Linked DNA regions of Homo sapiens. The protein of the gene in region 2 interacts with the protein of the main gene of each other region in a pairwise test. Each region holds a gene or a part of one and is shown on either strand. Other genes may lie near its edges.

What was found.
Region 1: the proteins of HELQ (region 2) and RAD51C interact in binary tests that used the Homo sapiens proteins (3 or more experiments, as listed by UniProt).

Annotation. Positions count from the first base shown.
Region 1 is NC_000017.11:58,730,278-58,734,201, reverse strand, and holds part of RAD51C (DNA repair protein RAD51 homolog 3), read right to left. Parts: intron 1,722-3,924; coding exon of another isoform or gene 1,719-1,721; coding exon 1,658-1,718; intron 85-1,657; coding exon 1-84. UniProt on the Homo sapiens protein: Essential for the homologous recombination (HR) pathway of DNA repair. Involved in the homologous recombination repair (HRR) pathway of double-stranded DNA breaks arising during DNA replication or induced by DNA-damaging agents.
Region 2 is NC_000004.12:83,407,202-83,411,125, reverse strand, and holds the end of HELQ (helicase POLQ-like), read left to right. Parts: intron 1-3,565; coding exon 3,566-3,673; 3' UTR 3,674-3,780; downstream 3,781-3,924. UniProt on the Homo sapiens protein: Single-stranded 3'-5' DNA helicase that plays a key role in homology-driven double-strand break (DSB) repair.

The DNA.
Region 1 (3,924 bases), on a different chromosome or scaffold from region 2:
TCGTGACCGTTTCCGGGTGCTCAAGGAACCTTCTGTTTGCAATGAACATGCAGAAGTAACAACAGTATCTCTAAATCCCTGAGGCTGAAAGATAAAAAATATATATACAAATATGCTTTAAGAACATTTGAAGACTGATCTTAGAAATATTTTTAAGTAACTAATAAGAAAGCTACTTTATTCTAGGGCCAGGCGCAGTGGCTCACACCTGTAATCCCAGCACTTTGGGAGGCTGAGGTGGGCAGATCATGAGGTCAGGAGTTCAAGACCAGCCTGGCCAACATGGTGACCCCTATCTCTACCAAAAATATAAAAATTAGCTGGGCATGGTGGCACACACCTCTAGTCCCAGCTACTCTGGAGGCTGAGGCAGGAGAATCGCTTGAACCTGGGAGGCGGAGGTTGCAGTGAGACAAGATTGTGCCACTGCACTCTAGCCTGGGCGAAATAGTGAGACTTCGTCTCAAAAAAAAAGAAAGTTCTTGAGATAGAAATTTATCAACCACTGTGAATGAAGAGAATAAACCTCATGGATACGTGCCAAAGCCCGGGCTATATTAAGAGTATTTTATATATACTTATTTATACCCTTGCATACACACGCACAGAAATAACATTGCATTATAAAAATGTTCTCTAAAGGTCAATCCTAACAAACTTTACGATAGCTTTGTTAGAAGTAAAAGGAAATAACCTAAGTCTTAGGTACTTTACAGATTTATTTTCATAATTAAATACTCTAAAGTTTTCCAACTATGATATTTCTCTCTCTCTTTTTTTTCCCCAACTAGGATATTTCAAGTACACCTGGGTACTGCAAAGACTAAGTGGATAATTCAGTTTCAGAATCTCTATTTCTGTTTTTGTTGTTATAAAAATGAGATAAAGCCGGGCTCGGTGGCTCACGCCTGTAATCCCAGAATTTTGGAAGGCTGAGAAGGGCGGATCACTTGAGGTCAGGAGTTTGAGACTAGTCTGGCCAACATGGCGAAACCCCATCTCTACTAAAAACACAAAAATTAGCCAGGCGTGGTAGCACACGCCTATAATCCCAGCTACTAGGGAGGCTGAGGCAGGAGAATTGCTTAAACCAGTAGGGCGGAGGCTGCAGTGAGCCAAGATTGCACCGCTGCACTCCAGCCTGGGCGACGCAGAGACTCCATCTCAAAAAAAAAGAGATGCCAAAAATATATTTGGCTCAACACTATTGATAAATATGCATATTTCAGCCAAAAAATGTGTGTTCTATGATGTAAATTCACAGAAGAATTAACATCTTAAAGTGGGCTATATTTGGTGCTACAATAGATCTATAATACCTACAGACCAAAATAAGTAATGTTAGTATTTTTTCTTTTCTGGAAATCTTCAACAACTTTCACTTTAAAGATTTTTAATATCCTGACATTACATATGGCATGGAACACACTACCCCAAAATAAGTATTTCCTCTGCTCTTAAGAATAAATTTCAGTCCATTTGTGACTACAATATTCTGTATATACTACTATTTTGGGGACAATGTTCTAAGCATCAAAAGCTGTCCTCAAATATGCTTGCTGCCTACAGAAGTTGACAGAAGCAAGTTGTAAATTCTCTCTTTAGATAATTACCGCCCATCAATATCAAAATCCCACTCTAATCAAATAATACTGACTTTGATTTGAAACAGTACTGTGCATTCCTTCTGGCTGGGTGACTTGTACAATGTTGCCAACCTGCTTAAAGAAAAAGAATAAATACATACAAACACATGAACTTAATTAATTAAAAGTTCAGATGACCAAACTCATTATTTAAATGTATAGGTTTATTATATTAATAATTCTATTTTTTCTCTAAGAACACAAAAAGGAGAGAAATATTAAAAATACACCCTTCAAATTACCCGTATGTATATAACAGAGTTTATATGAAATTTTAAAGCAACCTAAAAGTCCAATGACTGATTCAAATAAATTATTTTACATATGATGAGATATTACTTATGCTAAAAACTAAACGTGGAAGAAAATATTCAATGAGATAGGAAAGTATTAATAATATACTAAATAATAGTTATACTGTATTATCCCATATTTATAAGTATGTATACGCACATCTAAAAGAATTGATAGAAGACTACAATCAAGAAGTTAAAAGCTGTTATCACAAGGTAAAGGTTGCTTGCTTATATTTTCCAAACTGTCTGCAGTAATCATGTTTTTTTAATTATTGCTGAAGAATTATGATAATTTCTTATACTACAAATGAGAAACACTTACTCATATTACACCCAATAAAAATAGCTAGGACGACATTGTTTTAAAATGATGCACCTAGGCATGGTGGCTCATGTCTGTAATCCCAGCTCTTTAGGAGGGCAAGGCATGAGGATCACTTGAGACCAGGAGTTTGAAGCCATCCTGGGCAACATAGTGAGACCCCCATCTCTACAAAAATAATAATATAAAATGATTATGTCCCAAAAATAAGTCATGACAGAACAAGATCTGCTTAGGTGGGATTTTATTATGTCTTATACAATTAATATAAAACTGAAAGCTAAAAGTAGCTGAGAAATAAATTTCTAAGCTCTTATTAACTATATTCAAGTACTGTAACAGCAACAAATATAAACAAAAACCTTTAAGACTGCTTTTTGGCTGGGCGCGGTGGCTCACGCCTGCAATCCCAGCACTTTGGGAGGCCAAGGCAGGCAGATCACCTGAGGTCGGGAGTTCGAGACCAGCCTGACCAACATGGAGAAACCCCATCTCTACTAAAAATACAAAATTAGCCGGGTGTGGTGGCGCATGCCTGTAATCCCAGCTACTCGGGAGGCTGAGGCAGGAGAATCGCTTGAACCTGTGAGGCAGAGGTTGCGGTGAGCTGAGATCATGCCATTGCACTCCAGCCTGGGCAAAAAAGAGTGAAACTCCATCTCAAAAAAAAAAAAAAAAACTGCTTTTAAGAATTACTTTAAAACTGATACACTGTAACTTATTCACAATAGCCAGAAGGTGGAAGCAACCCAAGTGTGCATCCACAGATGAATAAACAAAATGTGGTATGTACATACAATGGAATATGCAGACTTAAGGAAGAAAATTCTGACACATGCTACAACATAAATGAGCCTTGAAGACATTATACTAAGTGAAATAAGCCAGTCACATCAGAACAAGTATTATATGATTCCAATTATATGGGGTTGCTAGAGGAGTAAAATTCAGAGACAGAAGGTAGAATGGTGATTGTCAGGGGCTGGGGGTAAAAAAGAATGAGTTAGCATTTAATGGGTACAGAGTTTCAGTATGGGAAGATGAAAAAGGTCTGAAAATGGATGATGATGGCTGCACAATATGAATGTACCTAATGCCAGTGAACTATATGTAAACATAAAATGGTAAATTTTATGTTATATACATGTTTTAGCACAATGTAATGAAACTGATCTAAAAAATACAGATTCTAACCTAGAGGAAAATAAGATTCTCAGAGTTATAAGGGTCATTTACTTACACAAAATAGAATGATTTGTTTTCAAAGACAATTCAAAAAGGACATTTTGGCTATGATCTGTTACTCTCTTAATTTTGAAATTGCCCCTCTTCTCAGACACAATTCAAAAGAAAAACACAGACCAAAATACAGCAGAATCCAAAATGTTCTATACTCTGTAATTGCAACTTTAAACATAAATAATTGCTAAGTAATATGTAATACAAGAATAGCTATGTTGAGGCTGGGTGCGGTGGCTCACGCCTGTAATCCCAGCACTTTGGGAGGCTGAGGCAGGCAGATCACGAGGTCAGGAGTTCAAGACCAGCCTGGCCAACACGGTGAAACCCCCATCTCTACTAAAGATACAAAAAAAAAAAAAAAAAATTAGCTGGGCGTGGTGGCACGCACCTGTAATCCCAGCTACTGAGGAGGCTGAGG
Region 2 (3,924 bases):
TGCAGTGGCACAATCATGCCTCACTGCAACCTTAGCCTCCCAAGCTCAGGTGATCCTCCCACTTCAGCCTCCCAAGTAGCTGGGACCACAGGCATGCACCACCACACCCAGCTAATTTATGTAATTTTTTTTTTTTTTTTAGAGATGGGGTTTCTCCATGTTGCCCGGTTTGGTCTCGAACTCCTGGGCTCAAGCAATCTGCCCACCTTGGCCTCCCAAAGTGCTGGGGTTACAAGTGTGAGCCACCTTGCCTATCCTAGCTTGGCTTTCTTACAGTGTGGATGCTAGGATCTGAGGGGGAGGATTCACATGACCTTGGAATGATCTCATTTCAAGACCCCAAGGCCTTTCTTAAACTGAGACCTGTCATGTGGCATCATTTCTTCTGCATTCTATTAGTTATAAGTGAATCACAAAGGCTAGCACAGATTCAAGAGGAGAATTAGATCCCGTCTCTCAATGAAGGTGTCAAAGAATTTCCAATCATCTTTAATTTGCCACACTAATCCCATACAGGACTTGCTATATAGTCTTCCTCTTTTTCATATTTGTACTTCCTTTCTCCAATAATGAGAAACCTCATCCCTGTGTTTATTAATATATTTCTGTTTTCCTCAATCTTAGAATGCACTGAAAGTAACTGCAGAATTGTTAAATTATACCACTCCAAAAAAAACAAACATTCAGTATTTATTTACAGCACTTTTTGTCTTCAGTCTGAGAGTATATAATTAAAATAATGTGTTAAAATGTTACTTGGTTTGGGGTTTAAAAAAATCTGCTTCAGTGTGGCTGTTATACATTTGAAACACAAATTCTACTGGTATTCCATTTTATTTCCTCTCCTTCCCTCACAGATATTTTTTTAGGGGGAGTGGGGAGGAACTAGGTCTCTGTCACCCAGGCTAGAGTGCAGTAGCACCATCATAGCTCACTGCAGCCTTGAACTCCCAGGCTCAGGTGATCCCACCTTAGCCTCCTGAGTGGCTGGGACTATAGGTATGGGCCACCATTCCTGGCTAATTTTTTGTTGTTGTTGTAGAGGCTTGGTCTCACTGCATTGCCCAGGCTGGTCTCTAACTTCTGGCCTCAAGCAATCCTCCTGCCTCAACCTCCCAAAGTGCTGGGATTATAGGTCTGAGCCACCATGCCCGGCCTATCTCGTTTTTATTCTCTTTATTGTTTTCCTGCTTTTTAAATTTTTTCAGTGGCCCTAATTAGGTTTTTTATTTAAATCTGTTTTTCTATGGACACCCAGTTATTTAGTTATAGTTATTAGTTTTTATTTCTAATATGATTTTGCCTTTTTCTTTTATTTCATTCCTGAGCTCAGTCAACTTTTGTATCATTTCTTCCAGTTTTTGTCCATGTCGGTTCTTAGTTTTTTAACTTCTTATTTAGAGAGCATTTCTACTCCTCCTCATATCTCCAGATTTTTATTTGAGAATATTTAATTTTGTTTGGAGTGTTGTGTTACAGTTTTTCTGCTTCATGGTTTGCTTTCAGGAAGGGAAATTTTTATGAGATGAAGAGTTTGGGTTCTTATTGGTTTTCTTTTCTCTTTTTTTTTTTGAGACAGAGTATCGCTCTCTTGCCCAGGCTGGAGTGCAGTGGTGCAATCTTGGCTCACTGCAAGCTCCGCCTCCCAGGTTCACGCCATTCTCCTGCCTCAGCCTCCTAAGTAGCTCGGACTACAGGCGCCGGCCACCTTGCCTGGCTAAATTTTTTTTTGTATTTTTAGTAGAGATGGGGTTTCACTGTGTTAGCCAGGATGGTCTCGATCTCCTGACCTCATGGTCTGCCCACCTTGGCCTCTCAAAGTGCTGGGATTACAGGCATGAGCTACCATGCCCAGCCTTGTTTTCTTTTTATATAGTAGTTTTGTATAGATGAGAACTGCTTGTGCCTCTGCATATCTTGGACAACACAGTCATTTGGAATGATTTATGAGATCCCAGTTCAAGAGTGTTCTCTTCTGTCAGAGTAGCAAAGTATTTTTCTTTAATGGATGACTTGGGGTGGGAGAGGAATGCAAGTTTGTTTGTTTGTTTGTTTAATTTCCTTTTGCCCTACAAGATTGTAAATTTTGTCCTTTTTTCCTCTTCCTCTCATGGCTGAGCTTCCAAAAGGCACCTCCCTTTTCACCCATTCTCTCCCCTAAAAGCATTGCCTTTCGAAGACTGCCTCCTAGAGTCCCACATGCATTTTAAATATCTTCCTATAAACAATGCTTTAATCAACCAACATTCTTTTTTCAGTATTTTTATATTTGGGTAGGCTTTTTCTCTCTGGAGGTGATCTTATTTCATTTTAGACCCTCTATTTCCCTCTTATCTTGTTCATGTGTTTTTTTTTTCTCAACCCCATCTGGATCTCTGCAAACACTTGGGTGGGAGCTCAAGAAACTGGTTTTGGCTGAGTGTAGTGGCTCACACTATAATCCCAGCACTTTGGGAGGCCAAGGCAGGAGGATCGTTTGAGCCCAAGAGTTTGAGAACAGCCTGGACAACATAGGGAGATCCAGTCTCTACAAAAAAAGCTTTTTAAATTTTTTCTAATTAAAAAAAAAAAAAGAGGCTGGGCATGGTGGCTCACACCTGTAATCCCAGCACTTTGGGAGGCTGAGGCAGGCAGATGATGAGGTCAAGCAGTGGAGACCATCCTGGCCAACATGGTGAAACCCCATCTCTACTAAAAATACAAAAATTAGCTGGGTGTGGTGGTGCATGCCTGTAGTCCCAGCTACTCAGAAGGCTGAGGCCTTCTGAATCACTTGAACCTGGGAGGCGGAGGTTGCAGTGAGCTGAGATCACGCCACCGTGCTCCAGCCAGGCGACAGAACAAGACTCCGTCTAAAAAAGAAAAAAAGGCGGGTGGGGGGGAGCGGAATTTATTCTTCCACAAATTGGTGGGCTTTTTTAAACAAGTAATTTGAGGTTCTTGATATTCTCTGTATTATAGTAATACTAACACAAGGGTTTTGTGTAGTTTACTTATTATTCTTATTGATCTATATAGCTTATTATTTGGTAAAAATTCATTGACATCTTTCATATGCCATGTTTGGAAATACTTTTTTTGCTCATTATGTTGCTTTTGAAATTAACAGTTTTAAGTTTAGGAACTTGAATAAAACTTTTATTTGAAATACTGGTAGCTTTTTAAAGCATACTAAATTTTGAGGAATAATAAAATGCATATATATAAAGGATAACATTTTTCAGGAGCTAATTAAATTTTTGCAAAATTGTCTTAGATTTTATAGATTAAAAGTTAATTTTTAAGTGGCTGAGTCTTCAATAAAACAAATCTTTGGGAGAATTAAAGCTCCTTTATTTTTGGTATACTAAAAGGCAGTGATCAGCTAAAATGGTTTTAACTAAATGCCTCATCTTCATTGACTATAATCGTTTATTCTTAAGTGGCCATTTTTCAATCTCATTATAGTTTTAATGTCTAGATTTCTGATGTGTAAGGATTCAGGTGTTCAATGGACAGTGGTAAAATTGTTGGCAATTCTCTAGCAATGCATATTTTGGCCTCACGTCTTAATTTTTTAATGTAGATGCTGTTGCATGAAAAAGCAGAAGCCCTGCAAGAAGAGGTAGAAGAGTTACTAAGATTGCCTTCTGATTTCCCTGGTGCTGTGGCTTCTTCCACTGACAAAGCATGAAGCTATCTGATGAGAATTTTCATATATGAATTATTTATTGTACATGTGTGTTATTAAAGATAACTTATACTTTATAAATGAAAAAATACATTTCAGTTATACATTAAGAACTACGAATAATGTTTGAATATACCTCTTCCCACTAACAATTCATTCTTTGGAATACTTACACATTATTTCTCTGCTAAACAGACTATAGTGTCCACCACAAAATGAAATTCAACTTCATCAACATTGTGCTCAACCTTTTT